Linked DNA regions of Homo sapiens. The protein of the gene in region 1 interacts with the protein of each later gene in a biochemical or structural test. Each region holds a gene or a part of one and is shown on either strand. Other genes may lie near its edges.

Region 1 (7,026 bases):
AAGTTACAGTTGCTGTTTTCAGATGGCTGTCCTGAATCTATAAGGTAGCCCCCTGAATGACAGATAAGTCACTCTGACCGCCTTTTTTTTTCTCTCCCACTTCTGGACCTCTGCAGGTGTCTGGTTGAGAAGGGAGATGTGGCCTTTGTGAAACACCAGACTGTCCCACAGAACACTGGGGGTAAGTGCACCTGCTCCTCTGTCCCCCTAGATCACTAGATCCTGGTCACTGGTATTCACTTGTATTCAGGGATGCCTTTGTGGAAGTATTATGTACACTGTCAGACTTCAAAGCTCTGATTCTCAGTCTGTCTGCTCAGTGAAGAGAGACATGTTCACCTGAGTGCGCAGAATGATCAGGATTATGGGGCCCCCAATGGCCCTAAATCCTCCCCAACACACACTCCCACAGCTGCAAGCCTTGTGCTCCTTTCCCCTAAATACTTCAGTGCCTATTTCCTAAGAATAAGACAATCTCTTGCATACCCACAGTATGATTACCAAGATCAGGATCTTTTACATTATGTGGATTTAATACTCGTCACGTCCACAGTCCACATTTAACTGTTGTCAGTTATCCCAGTAATGCCTTTTATAGCTATTTACTGTACTTCTGGGTTGTGTCCATTGAGAAGGCCTAGAGGCAATGGCATACCAGCAGGAGTAAGCACCAAGATATTGGCTTGTAAGTACTCTTCTTTACTAAAAGGAACCAGAACTCCTTGGAAAAATAGCTGACTTCAGGGCTGGGGCAGGAAAAATAGATGCTGAGCCTAGAACAACACACTGAAGTGCTCAAACAGTGATGGGACACTCAAAGCATACAAGAACCAATTTGAAGGATCTCCTGTTGCCAAGTCTGGGAATTTTGAGCATTAAAATAAATAATGATAGCAGTAAGGGATAATAGCCCATTGAAAGAAATAAGAATGCATGAGGCAATACTGATTAAACAAATGAAGAAGGGAAAACTAATCAATGTGGAAGGAATGATAGAGTTAGAAAACTATCACTTGGCAACCAATATATTGATAACTGATTCAAGCAAGAATCAATGGGTGTTAAGCCGGGCGCAGTGGCTCACGCCTGTAATCCCAGAACTTTGGGAGGCCGAGGCGGGTGGATCATGAGGTCAGGAGATCGAGACCATCCTGGCCAACAAGGTGAAACCCCGTCTCTACTAAAAATACAAAAAATTAGCCGGGCGCGGTGGTGGGCGCCTGTAGTCCCAGCTACTCGGGAGGCTGAGGCAGGAGAATGGCGTGAACCTGGGAAGCGGAGCTTGCAGTGAGCCGAGATTGCGCCACTGCAGTCCGCAGTCCGGCCTGGGCGACAGAGCGAGACTCCGTCTCAAAAAAAAAAAAAAAAAAAAAAAGAATCAATGGGTGTTAACTTGTGGGTGAACGTTGGACAGCCATAATATTAATAAAAACAAACAAAACAAAGCAAAACAAACATTGGCCAGACTGAGCACTCCACACCTGACCCCTCAGTATCACTAAGTGCTAGCAGAGCCCACTGGAATTCAAGCTGTGAATACTTCCCTGCCTTCTCTCATGTTCATTCCCCAACTCCTCACTTTTCCTGGGCAACTCATCCAGAATGAACCGGCTCAGCACCAGCCCCTCCAGGAAGCCTTCCCAGATGGCATACCCTGTCCTACAAGAAGACTCCTCTGTTCATATTGCCATTATGATTGAATTCACCACACTCTGTAATACACTTTGGCTACAGAAACTCTTTGAGCTCTTTTTCTTCATCTTATATTCCCAGAACCTAGTGTAGCACATAGTACACAGCAGTTGCTAAGAATTTGTTTGCAGAAATATTGGGTTGACTAATTTTCCTTTCTTCCCTCGTATTATTGCTTTTTCCTTTAAGAGAGTGTTACCCTAAGCTTGGCTCTTTGCCACCCTTGATTTCTTTTGGTACTTTTCTGAGTAGAGCTCCCTTCTTTAAGCTTTGACTCTCTTACTCTTTGCAATGACTCAAAAATTCTTCCCTCCTGCATAGAATTAAGATAGGAGGCCTGACATCCAATCTCAATTCCATTCCAGTCTATTTCCCAAGGTGTCACTTTTATGTAGAGAGTACATTGGCATTGCAATTGTATTTTTTTACGTGTGTATATGGATGTCCTCATATATTGTAGTTGTATATATACAATCCATATACAACTCAACTGTCCTCATCTTTCTGTCAACGTTCCCTCCTCTTCTCCCAGCCTCTATCCTTATAGAGAATCCTGCTATACTCCCTGCCCATCAGGCCTAGATTAAGTCTGTCAGTCAATATCTTATTTCTTCAAAACGTGTCTTTTTTCAAACTAAATTTTGAAATAATTGTGTGTATTTAAGGTAGACAACATGATTTTTAAGAGCCAAAGTAATTTTGATGTATTGTAAGTTTGGGAACTACTGGTCTAATACCCCTGACTTAATATCACATTCCTGATAAATATTACTAAATGTAAGTCACATCATGTCTGATTCATCATACTTATATTTTGCACCTTCTTACCTTCTTCTGTTATTAATTTGTTGCTTTTTCAACTTATATTTTAGATTGAGGGTACATATGCAGGTTTGTTACATGGTATACTGCATGATGCTGAGGTTTGCGGTATGATTGAACCTGTCACCCAGGTAGTGAGCATAGCACACAACAGGTAGCTTTTCAACTCTTGCCCCCCTCTCTCCCTCCTCCAAAATCTGTCTTAAGTGCTATGGTATATACAAGAAGGAAGACACAAAACCACGTGGGCTTTTTTTTTTTCTTTTTTTTCTTTTTGAGATGGAGTCTCACTTTGTTGCTAGGCTGGAGTGCAGTGATGTGATCTCAGCTCACTGCAAACTCCGCCTCCCAGATTTAAGTGATTCTCCTGCCTCAGCCTCCCAAGTAGCTGGGACTACAGGCGTGCACCACCACGACCAGCTAATTTTTGTATTTTTAGTAGAGACGGGGTTTCACCATGTTGGCCAGGATGGTCTCCATCTCTTGGCCTCATGATCCGCCCACCTCGGCCTCTCAAAAGTGCTGGGATTACAGGTGTGACCCACCGCGCTCAGCCCACATGGGCTCTTTTATCACAATTTGTGTGTGTGTGTGTGTGTGTGTGTGTGTGTATGTGCATATTATAGGTGTGTGTAGGAAAAAGAATGTTAGAAATGTACCAATTTTGAAGGCGTAGACTATGAAATTACAAATGCTTCAAAATTTTCTTCCCAATACTTACGTGGCATTTTATAAATTTCCACCAATAAACGTGTATTATTTTTATTGAAAAAGCATATTTTTAACATGCCCTTCTAGATGCCCTCCTAGCCAGACTGAATCACCTCCCATTTGATTTTTCTTAATTTTCTACCTTTAGGTTCTGGCTCATTCATTAACATCAATTTCCATTCATAAGTCCTCACAAACCCACTTTTCCTCTTGCCTGAGTGCCTCACATACCCTACTGCCTGAGATGGTTCCAGAGGCGGTCTCCTCTCTCCCTTAGAAACACCAGGCACACACCTGCCCCCAGTCTCGCCTGCACTCTCCTTTCCTCCCGCAGAGAGGCATTCCTTTCTCCTCCTCTCATCCTACACACACTATAAGAGACAACTGAAATCTTGCCTCCTCCAGCCAGCTTCTTAATTCATTTGTTCTCAAAGCCCTGGTTTGAGCTCACACAGCATCTAGAGTGTTTTACAAAATATAAAATATTATTATCCCTGCCCTGAATTTTTTGTTTTGGTATGTGTGTTATTTTCCCCTCCAATAAGATTGTGCCTTGGAGAGGGCTGAGAACATAGTATCATAGATAAATGAATAAAATAACATAAAATAAAATAAAAATACATATACCCTTTGAACTAACTATTCCACTTCTATGTAAGCACAATTATATGCCAGTAACACTCATTTTAACGCTACTTTAGTGGCAAAAAATTGTAAACACCTCAGATGCCTATTAAAAGAGGAATGGTTTAAAGATACTATTATAGCCACACTATGAAATATAATACAGTAGTTAAGAAGAACGAGCTTGATTTGTATGTACTGACAAGAAGAATCTATAAGGTATGTAAACAGTTGAAAAAAAAGCTACAGAGTTTTACATTTGTCAAGATCTAACACTAAACAAAATTAGAAACATGTGAAATCCATATACACACGTAGAAAAATACATATAATGAGCCGTGGATGGAAACTCGCAAATGTGATATTAAAGACTAGCACTATAAGACTGAGTGAGATTTGGAGAGTATAGGAAAGGAGGCTTTTAGTTAATATAGAGAGATATTCAAAAATTTATGAGTGTGATCTCATGTATTAGTTATTCGGTTAAAGAAACAAAATTAAATGAAAAATACATTTTTAAAAAGGTTGCAATTCTGAATTATGGGAGAGAAATAAAAATTAGCAAAACATATTTGCAAAGTGGCTCAGGAGGAAGGAGCTGAAACCCTAAGAATGGGTGAGTTTTTTTTTTTTTTCAGAGACAATACAGAAAAGAAGAGGCAAAGGGGCCGAGATGGGATACAGACCTGTATCACACAGGTGTGTGCACATTCTCATTTAGAACTGGAACAAGGGAGTCAGATTTAAAATTCTGGTGCAGATTCCAAAGGTGTTCTCTGAGGAAAAGTTCTTTTGTTTGGAGATGCCATGTGTTACAGCACAGAAATTGATCAACCTGGCTTAGAGCGTCACATTCTTCCTCTGTTGGAGCAAGAGGTACAGAAGGAATTGGAATTTAGTGGAATTGAAGATCTTTTTGAACAGCATCTGCAGAATGTAGTTCATTCTCACCTGGCTGGGTAGGGAAGGTTGGAAGGGGATGGTCAATAATCATTCCTGGTCACTGTGAGTCTGGCATCACCTTGTAGACCACATGGGTGTCTCTTCCTGTCCACATCACTGTAACCCCAGTGTGGGCACTTCTGCTGGCGAGAAGGCCCAGGTTCTCTACACACCACTGAGTCAGTTCCATCTCCCCAGCGGGGCACCTTGACCAAAGCCATCAGCTGAACCACCTTCTTCCTGTCCCTAGGAAAAAACCCTGATCCATGGGCTAAGAATCTGAATGAAAAAGACTATGAGTTGCTGTGCCTTGATGGTACCAGGAAACCTGTGGAGGAGTATGCGAACTGCCACCTGGCCAGAGCCCCGAATCACGCTGTGGTCACACGGAAAGATAAGGAAGCTTGCGTCCACAAGATATTACGTCAACAGCAGGTATGGACCAGCCAGGTCCTCCCACCTTTTCTTCCTAGATGGCCATAGGCTATTCGGGGGGAGTTTACAACAAAGTGCAGCCATGACTCCAGCACTTTCTTTTTGAAAACTAGAATTCCATGCATTGTGCATTTCATGCCATGCATTGTGGACTAGAGTATCAGGGTTCAAATCACAGCTCCACAGCTTCCTAGTTGTGCCATCTTGGGTATGTTACATAACCTCTCTATGCCTCAGCTTCCTCATATATAAAATTGTAATAATAATATTTTTACCTACTTCTCAGTTAACATGAGTATTAAGTGAAGACATGCACCCAAACGGCATAGGAAAATTCCATTTCCTATAGGACGTGCTCAAAATATGTTAGCTGTGTAATTATGGAACTAGACCTCTCAGGCCCAGCTCTGCTTCTAGCTCCTGGTCACTGGTGATTAGATCTGATCCATGTACTCTTGGGACTAGGAATCTGCCTTTCTGCTCCCCCTAACCTTGTTCAGGGGTACCCTCATTTCCCCTACTCCTGTCCTTCCCGAAAATGAAGAAGACAGCTCCTGTTTCCCAGCGCTTGTTGATACGAGTCATGAAGAGTGGATTTCTGTTCCTCTTGCCTAGGCAGACTGAGCACTGTTCTCAACAGTCTGAAAAACACAGGACCCTTGCCCTCGGAGAGCCTGCCCTCTGGGGGAACAACCACTCAGGGCCAGCCTTGTTGAAGACAGGGGCTGCCTGAGTATTCTAATCCTAAAGGCCCCTCCACACACACACATCACCTTCCTTTTGGGCATAGCTGCCTGCTGTTGATTCACCATTACCTTTTTTTAAAAAAAATAAGAGTATATTTGAAGTCCTTTTAAGGTACATGACAATAATAAGCATTTAACATACATTTCCTAGCTGCTATATGGAAAGTTCAACATTTTGCAGTCATCATTTCACTTACAACCTTTGGAGATCTGGAGAAGCTGAGTGGCTTGCCCAAGAAAGGATTCAAAATGCAGTCAAACATGAACTTTTAAGAACTACCTCTGCCACTCCTCTGGGAGGGTTCACATTTAACATCTTCTTTGACAATAACATCTGAAGGGACATGTTATTGTCCTCTCATTTCCTATAAGCAGCCCCCAGTGAAGGGCAATGAAGTGGGGAAGAGAGGTCAGAGTAGGCAGGCATGGGTGTGGGTGGGAGGGACTTATCAGAGGAAGGTGGGACCAGGGACCCTATAGATGATTTTGGGGGCATCATGAAAGCATGCAGCTGGGGCCCTAAGTGGATAAATGGCAGATAAAGGAGGTGGAAAATTCCCAAGACATACTCCGTAGCTTCCCTTTTTCCCCAGGGCTGGTTCAGAGCTTTCAGACTCTTCTCATCCATGTGTTCCCAGCTGCTAAAGACCACAAGGTCCTCACGGACTTTCTGTTCACTTGACAGCACCTATTTGGAAGCAACGTAACTGACTGCTCGGGCAACTTTTGTTTGTTCCGGTCGGAAACCAAGGACCTTCTGTTCAGAGATGACACAGTATGTTTGGCCAAACTTCATGACAGAAACACATATGAAAAATACTTAGGAGAAGAATATGTCAAGGCTGTTGGTAACCTGAGAAAATGCTCCACCTCATGTGAGTAGGAGGAACAGCATGGGGAAGTGGCAACCAAACATGGTGGTGAGTGCTGGGATGGTGGGTGGGTACAGGAGGGGTAGGCTGTGGCCCTTGGGATAGGACAACATGGACAAAATGAAATGGTGAGTGAACAATCTAAGCCCGGCATGTATGACAGGCTAGACTGTAGGGGCAGA
Region 2 (7,026 bases), on another chromosome or scaffold:
ACCATGTTGGGCAGACTGGTCTCAAACTCCTGACCTCAGATGATCCACCCACCACGGCCTCCCAAAGTGCAGGGATTACAGGCATGAGCCACCATGCCCAGCCTAATTTTTAATTTTTTTTAGTAGAAACGAGGTCTCCCTATGTTGCCCAGGATGGTCTCAAACTACTGGCCTCAAACAATCCTCCCACCTCAGCCTCCCAAAATGCTGGGATTATAGGAATGAGGTACCGCACCCAGCCTGCTCAGGGCTTTTAAATTAAATTACAGGTCAGGCATGGTGGCTCACACCTGTAATCCCAGCACTTTGGGAGGCCGAGGTGGGCAGATCATGAGGTCAGGAGATCGAGACTATCCTGGCTAACATGGTGAAACCCCGTTTCTACTAAAAACACAAAAAATTAGCTGGGCGTGGTGGCGGGCACCTATAGTCCCAGCTACTTGGGAGGCTGAGGCAGGAGAATGGCATGAACCCGGGAGGCGGAGCTTGCAGTGAACCGAGATCGCGCCACTGCACTCCAGCCTGGGCGACAGAGCAAGACTCTGTCTCAAAAAAACAAAACAAATACAAAATTAGCCGGGCGTAGTGGCGCATGCCTGTAATCCCAGCTACTCGGGAGGCTGAAGCAGGAGAATCGCTTAAACCCAGGAGGCGGAGGTTGCGGTGAGTCAACGTCGTGCCATTGCACTCCAGCCTGGGCAACAAGAGTGAAACTCCATCTCAAAAAAAAAAAAATTAAATTACATTAATTTTTTTTTGAGACAGGGCCTTGCTCTGTCACCTAGGCTAGAATGCAGTGGTGCAATCTGGGCTCACTGCAGCCTCGATTTCCCAAGCTCAGGTGATTCTCCCATCTCAGCCTCCTGAGTAGCTGGGTCTACAGGGAGGGGCCACCACGCCCAGCTAATTTTTCATTTTTCTTTTTTCAAAATTATTATTATTATTTAGGGACAGGATTTATTTATTTTTATATATTTGCAACCAATTCTCACTCTGTTGCCCAAGCTGGAGTACAGTGGCATGATCTTAGCTCACTGTAACCTCCGCCTCCCGGCTTCAGGTGATTTTTGTGCCTCAGCTTCCCAAGTAGCTGGGACTACAGGCGTGAGCCACCATGCCCAGCTAATTTATGATTTTTTTGTTTGTTTTTTGTTTTTTTCTTTTTTTTTGTGAGACAGAGTTTCACTCTTGTTGCCCAGGCTGGAGAGCAATGGCACGATCTTGGCTCACTGCAAACTCCGCCTCCCGGGTTCAAGCGATTCTCCTGCCTCAGCTCCCCGAGTAGCTGGGATTACAGTCATGCGCCACGACACCCAGCTAATTTTGTATTTTTAGTGGAGATGGGGTTTCTCCATGTTGGTCAGTCTGGTCTCGAACTCCTGACCTCAGGAGATCCACCCACCTCGGCCTCCCAAAGTGCTGGGATTACAGGTGTGAGCCACTGCGCCCGGCAATTTATGTATTTTTTTTAGGGACAGGGTTTCATCATGTTGGCCAGGCTGGTTTCGAACTCCTGGGCTCAAGCAATCCTCCTACCTTGGCCTCCCAAATTTCTTGGATTACAGGCGTAAGCCATGGTGCCCAGCCTGTTCAGGGCTACTTTTATTTTTTTGAGCAGTATTTGGTCATCTGGGTACAGGCTGAGCAGGTAGATAGTTTGACAGGTCTAGAAGCGGGGTGTGGCACTGAGGCAAAAGTAGCAGTTTTGGGGAGAGAGCAAGGATGTTGCAGTGAGCCGAGATCGCGCCATTGCATTCCAGCCTGGGCAACAAGAGTGAAACATGGCTCTCGGTGGGATGGAGAGGGAAGAGAAAGTGGGGGGAGATGATACATGTGGAGCTATAGGACATTTGTCATGTTCAATGGGGTTGAAGAGCAGGTACAGCGAGGATAACTGGGGGAGTTGGAACCTGACAGGGTCTACTCAGAGAGTAGGATTCTGGATCCTTGAAAACTTCCTGATACAATATATCCTGTCTATCTCAGAGTCTCCAGCACCTACCACAATGCCTGGCACTTACTAGATGTTCAGTAGATCCTCAATGGATAAGTATTCCAGAGATGGAGTGCGGGTAATGACAAGATGCAGGATACGGGCCAGGCACAGTGGCTCACGCCTGTAATCCCAGCACTTTGGGAGGTCAAGGCAGGTGGATCATCTGAGGTCAGGAGTTTGAGACCAGCCTGGCCAACATGGTGAAATCCTGTCTCTACTAAAAATACAAAAATTAACTGGGTGTGATGGTGCATGCCTGTAATCCCAGCTACTCGGGAGGCTGAGGCAGGAGAATCACTTGAAACTGGGAGGCAGAGGTTGCAGTGAGCTGAGATCGCACCAATGCACTCCAGCCTGTGAAACAGAGCAAGACTCCATCTCAAAAAAAAAAAAAAAAAAAAAAAGATGCAGGGTGTGACCAGGGAAGTGGAGTGCCTGGACTGGAGGTGACAATGATGAAGTAATTAATTCATTTATCCAACAAGTATTTTGGGGCATCTACTACGTGGCAGGTACTAAGCTAAGCAGGTGGTGGTGAGATAGAGACTAAAACAGTCTAACTTTGTTCTCATGGTGCTTACAATCCACTGGAGAAAACCAATACTAAACTAACAATCATTCACGACTACATAATTATGACTGGAATCATTGCTTTGAAAGAAAAGCAAAGGATGTGAGGCTCAGTGTGGTGGCTCACACCTGTGAGCCCAGCACTTTGGGAGGCTGAGGTGGGAGGATCTCTTGAGCCCAGTTTGAGACCAGCCTGGGCAACATAGAGAGATCCTGTCTCTTAAAAAAATAATAATAATTTGACCAGGCACGGTGGCTCACACCTGTAATCCCAGCACTTTGGGAGGCCAAGGCAGGTGGATCTCCTGAGGACAGGAGTTCGAGACCAGCCTGGCCAACATGGTGAAACACTGTTTCACCCTTTTTAGGCTCTACTAAAAATACAAAAAAAATTAGCTGGGCATGTTGGCGGGCACCTATAATCCCAGCTACTTGGGAGGCTGAGGCAGGAGAATTGTTTGAACCTGGGAGGTGGAGGTTGCAGTGAGCCAAGATTGCGCCATTGCATTCCAGCTTGGGCAACAAGAGTGAAACTCCATGTCAAAAATAATAATAATAATAATAATAATAATTTTTTAAAAAAGAAAAATAAAAAATTAGCCCAGTATGGTGGTGCATGCCTAGAGTCCCGGCTATTCAGGAGGCTGAGGCAGGAGGATGGCTTGAGCTTAGGAGCTGAAGGTTGCAGTGAGCTATGGTCATGCCACTGCACTCCAGGCTGGGTGACAGAGTGAGACCCTATCTCCAAAAAAAGAAAAGAAAAGGGGCCGGGCGCCATGGCTCATACCTGTAATCCCAGCATTTTGGGAGGTGAAGGTGGGCTGATTGCCTGAGGCCAGGAGTTTGAGACCAGCCTAGCCGACATGCCGAAACCCTGTCTCTACTAAAAAAATACAAAACTAGCTGAGTGTGGTGGTAGGCGCCTGTGGTCCTAGCTACTCAGGAGGCTGAGGCAGGAGAATCACTTGTACCCAGGAGGCAGAGGTTGCAGTGAGCTGAGATTGCACGACTACACACCAGCCTGGGCGACAGAGCGAGACTCCGTCTCAAAAAAAAAAAGAAAGAAAGAAAGAAAAAAGAAAAGAAAAGTGTGTAAAGAAAGACTATAACCAGGATCCTGATTTAGATTGCAGTTCAGGGAAGGCTTCGTTGAGGAACTGACGAGTCTAAACTGCCAAGATGAGTAATTTGCCAGGCAAAGAGACTGTGGAAAAACATTCAGGCTGAGATTCACCATTTGCGAAGGGTCTGAAATGTGAAGATGGTGGCCTCTTGGAGGAAGGGAAAGATGGTCCATGTGGCCGGTGAGGTGGATGTAGCTCAGGCCCTAAAGGGCCTTACTGGCTACTTTAACTGTTTTGAATTGAATTTTCCTGCCTCATCCCTGAGTGATCCTCCCCACTCCCCTCCCCATAAGCACCTTATCTCACGCTTTTGATGTGTAGCTTTAAATACACATATGGGGCGGGTCGTCATGGTTCATGCCTGTAGTCCCAGCACTTTGGGAGGATCGCTTGAGGCCAGGAGTTCAAGACCAGCTTGGGAAACACAGCAAGACTTCTCGTCTACAAAAAATTTTTAAAAATCAGCGGTTGGTGGCGTACACCTGTAGTCCCAGCTGCTCAGGAGGCTGAGGCGGGAGGATGGCTTGAGCCCAGGAACCGGTGATTCCCCTGAGTACCTTGGTGTAAAGTGTCTCCATGAGGCCCACGTGGAGGATGGGGGAGATGAGGAGGGTCTGCTGCCTGCCCAGTTAGCTCTTTCGAAGGAAAGTGTTTGGGTGCTGTGTGTGTGTGTGTGTGTGTGTGTGTGTGTGTGTGTGTGTGTTGACGTCGGGAGGAACGAGGTTGGGGGAGAGAGTTTGGCTTGAGCCGGGAAGAACCTACAGGATGATGGGCAGGACCCCCAGCTATGGGAAGTCAGGTTTTAAGCAGAGTGAGGTCCTGAGAGTCTCCGGCGCCGCCCTGGTGGTGATGGGAGAAAATGGGTCCGCGGAGGGCCCTGCACTGCGGCTCGCGCCTGTAATGCCAGCACTTTGGGAGGCCGAGGCGGGCAGATCACCTGAGATCAGGAGTTTGAGACCAACCTGGTCAACATGGTGAAACCCGTCTCTACTAAAAATACAAAAATTAGCCGGGCGTGATGGCACGTGCCTGTAATCCCTGATACGAGGGAGGCCGAGGCAGGAAAATGGCTTGAACCAGGAAGGCGGAAGTTGCAGAGAGCCGAGATTGGTCCACTGCACTCCAGCCTGGGCGACAGAGCGACACTCCGTCTCAAAAAAAAAAAAAAAAAAAAAAAAAAAAGCGTCCGCGGGGAGCGCTCTTTTCCTAAACTCAGGAACCCCTCGCCGCCCCTGCCCCTGGCGACCCCACGTCTCTGGCATCCTTCCCTCTTCCCTCCCTCTCCTCCGGGCGCCCAGAAAAGTCCCCACCTCTCCCCGCTTAGGCAAACCAGCCTTCGGGAACGGGTGGCAGGCTCGGCCGGGATGGCCGCTCTGACTCAGGACATTCGCGCGGCGCTCTCCCGCCAGAAGCTGGACCACGTGTGGACCGACACGCACTACGTGGGGCTGCAATTCCCGGATCCGTGAGTGCGCGCGCGGGCGGGGGGCGCGCGGGGAGGGGGACGCGGCTCGGGGCGCTCACCAGCCCCGCTCCCCAGGGCTCACCCCAACACCCTGCACTGGGTCGATGAGGCCGGGAAGGTCGGAGAGCAGCTGCCGCTGGAGGACCCTGACGTCTACTGCCCCTACAGCGCCATCGGCAACGTCACGGTGAGCACCCCCTGCCCGCTCCTAGGATGGGGCGCGGCACGAGCCCTTTCCTGGGTCTCGAAGGAGGGACGCGGGGAGCGCGCCTCACCGTCCTCGTGTCCCCAGGGAGAGCTGGTGTACGCCCACTACGGGCGGCCCGAAGACCTGCAGGACCTGCGGGCCAGGGGCGTGGATCCAGTGGGCCGCCTGCTGCTGGTGCGCGTGGGGGTGATCAGCTTCGCCCAGAAGGTAAGTGTCCCTGGACAGAGGGAGGGCTTGAGCCCGGGAACCGGAGGGTCGGACTGCCAGTGAGAATCGTTCAGGGTGCTGTGAGAGGGAGACAGGAAAGAACCATGTGGCTGGATGGTAAGAAAATATAAGCTGGGCACGATGGTTCTCACCTGCAATCCCAGCACTTTAGGAGGCCAAGACAGGAGGATCGCTTGAGGCCAGGAATTCAAGGCAACACGGTGAGAACCCCCTCTCTACTAAAAAAAAAAAAAAAAAAAAAGGTTCTTTTTTTTTTTTTTTTAGTTAGCTGGGCTGGTGGCACATGCATGTGGTCCCAGCTACTCCGGAGGCTCCGGTGGGAGGATCGCTTGAGCCCAGGAGTGCCAGGCTGCAGTGAGCTATGATCGCGCCACTGCACTCCAGCCTGGGCAAGAGAGACTCTGTCTCAAAAAGAAAAAAAAAAAAAAGAGAGAGAAACAGAGAAGGGAGGGAGGGAGGGAGGAAGGAAGGAAGGAAAATGTTGGCTGGTCTGGGAATTGAATCAGAAGGAAAAAAGAAAATGTTGGCTGGGAACAAATTGGGTGTTGGGGGAAATCAGATGGGGAAGGGAACAGAAACATGGGGTACCCTGGAGCCCGGTGGGGTTTGAGGGCTGCCTAGGAGCTGCTGAGGTTGGGAAGACACAGGCCAGGTAGTGCCCCCACATCCTCTCCGTGGGATGGACAGTTGCAAGCAAAGGCCTTGCCATTTCCTGGTTTCTCCTGCCCTTATGAATCGGGTTTTTTTCTGGGAGGAGTCCTCTAGTCACCTTCCTCCCCAGGTGACCAATGCTCAGGACTTCGGGGCTCAAGGAGTGCTCATATACCCAGAGCCAGCGGACTTCTCCCAGGACCCACCCAAGCCAAGCCTGTCCAGCCAGCAGGCAGTGTATGGACATGTGAGTCTGGGGAGGCTGGTCGTGCTGTTCCCAGGTCCCGAGGCCACACCTTCTTGCTCAGAATAGGGCTGGCATGTTTTTCGTTTTTCCTGGAAGCCCAGCTCGCAGCTTTGCGTGGGCACCCCTTTCCCTGCAGGTGCACCTGGGAACTGGAGACCCCTACACACCTGGCTTCCCTTCCTTCAATCAAACCCAGTTCCCTCCAGTTGCATCATCAGGCCTTCCCAGCATCCCAGCCCAGCCCATCAGTGCAGACATTGCCTCCCGCCTGCTGAGGTGAGGGGAGTGTTGGGGACCAGAAGAGGAGGAAGCAGAGAGAGGAAGGCTGCAGCGAGGCCACAGGGTGATTGTGGGTGAACTAGAAAAAGGTGACTCTTGTTTAAGCCTGCAGTGAGCCATGACTACACCACTGCACTCCAGCCTGGGAGACAGAGAGACCCTGACCTTTTTTTTTTTTTGAGATGGAGTCTTGCTCTGTCTTCCAGGCTGGAGTGCAGTGGTGCAATCTTGGCTCACTGCAACCTCCACCTCCCGGGT

What was found.
Region 2: the proteins of TF (region 1) and TFR2 form a complex in vitro, tested with the Homo sapiens proteins (one study listed by BioGRID).

The regions. Positions count from the first base shown.
Region 1 is NC_000003.12:133,770,392-133,777,417, forward strand, and holds part of TF (serotransferrin isoform 1 precursor), read left to right. Parts: intron 1-116; coding exon 117-181; intron 182-5,041; coding exon 5,042-5,226; intron 5,227-6,657; coding exon 6,658-6,847; intron 6,848-7,026. UniProt on the Homo sapiens protein: Transferrins are iron binding transport proteins which can bind two Fe(3+) ions in association with the binding of an anion, usually bicarbonate.
Region 2 is NC_000007.14:100,631,545-100,638,570, reverse strand, and holds part of TFR2 (transferrin receptor protein 2), read left to right. Parts: intron 1-4,920; exon of another isoform or gene 4,921-5,014; coding exon 5,015-5,155; intron 5,156-5,230; coding exon 5,231-5,342; intron 5,343-5,447; coding exon 5,448-5,570; exon of another isoform or gene 5,571-5,648; intron 5,649-6,372; coding exon 6,373-6,489; intron 6,490-6,625; coding exon 6,626-6,765; intron 6,766-7,026. UniProt on the Homo sapiens protein: Mediates cellular uptake of transferrin-bound iron in a non-iron dependent manner. May be involved in iron metabolism, hepatocyte function and erythrocyte differentiation.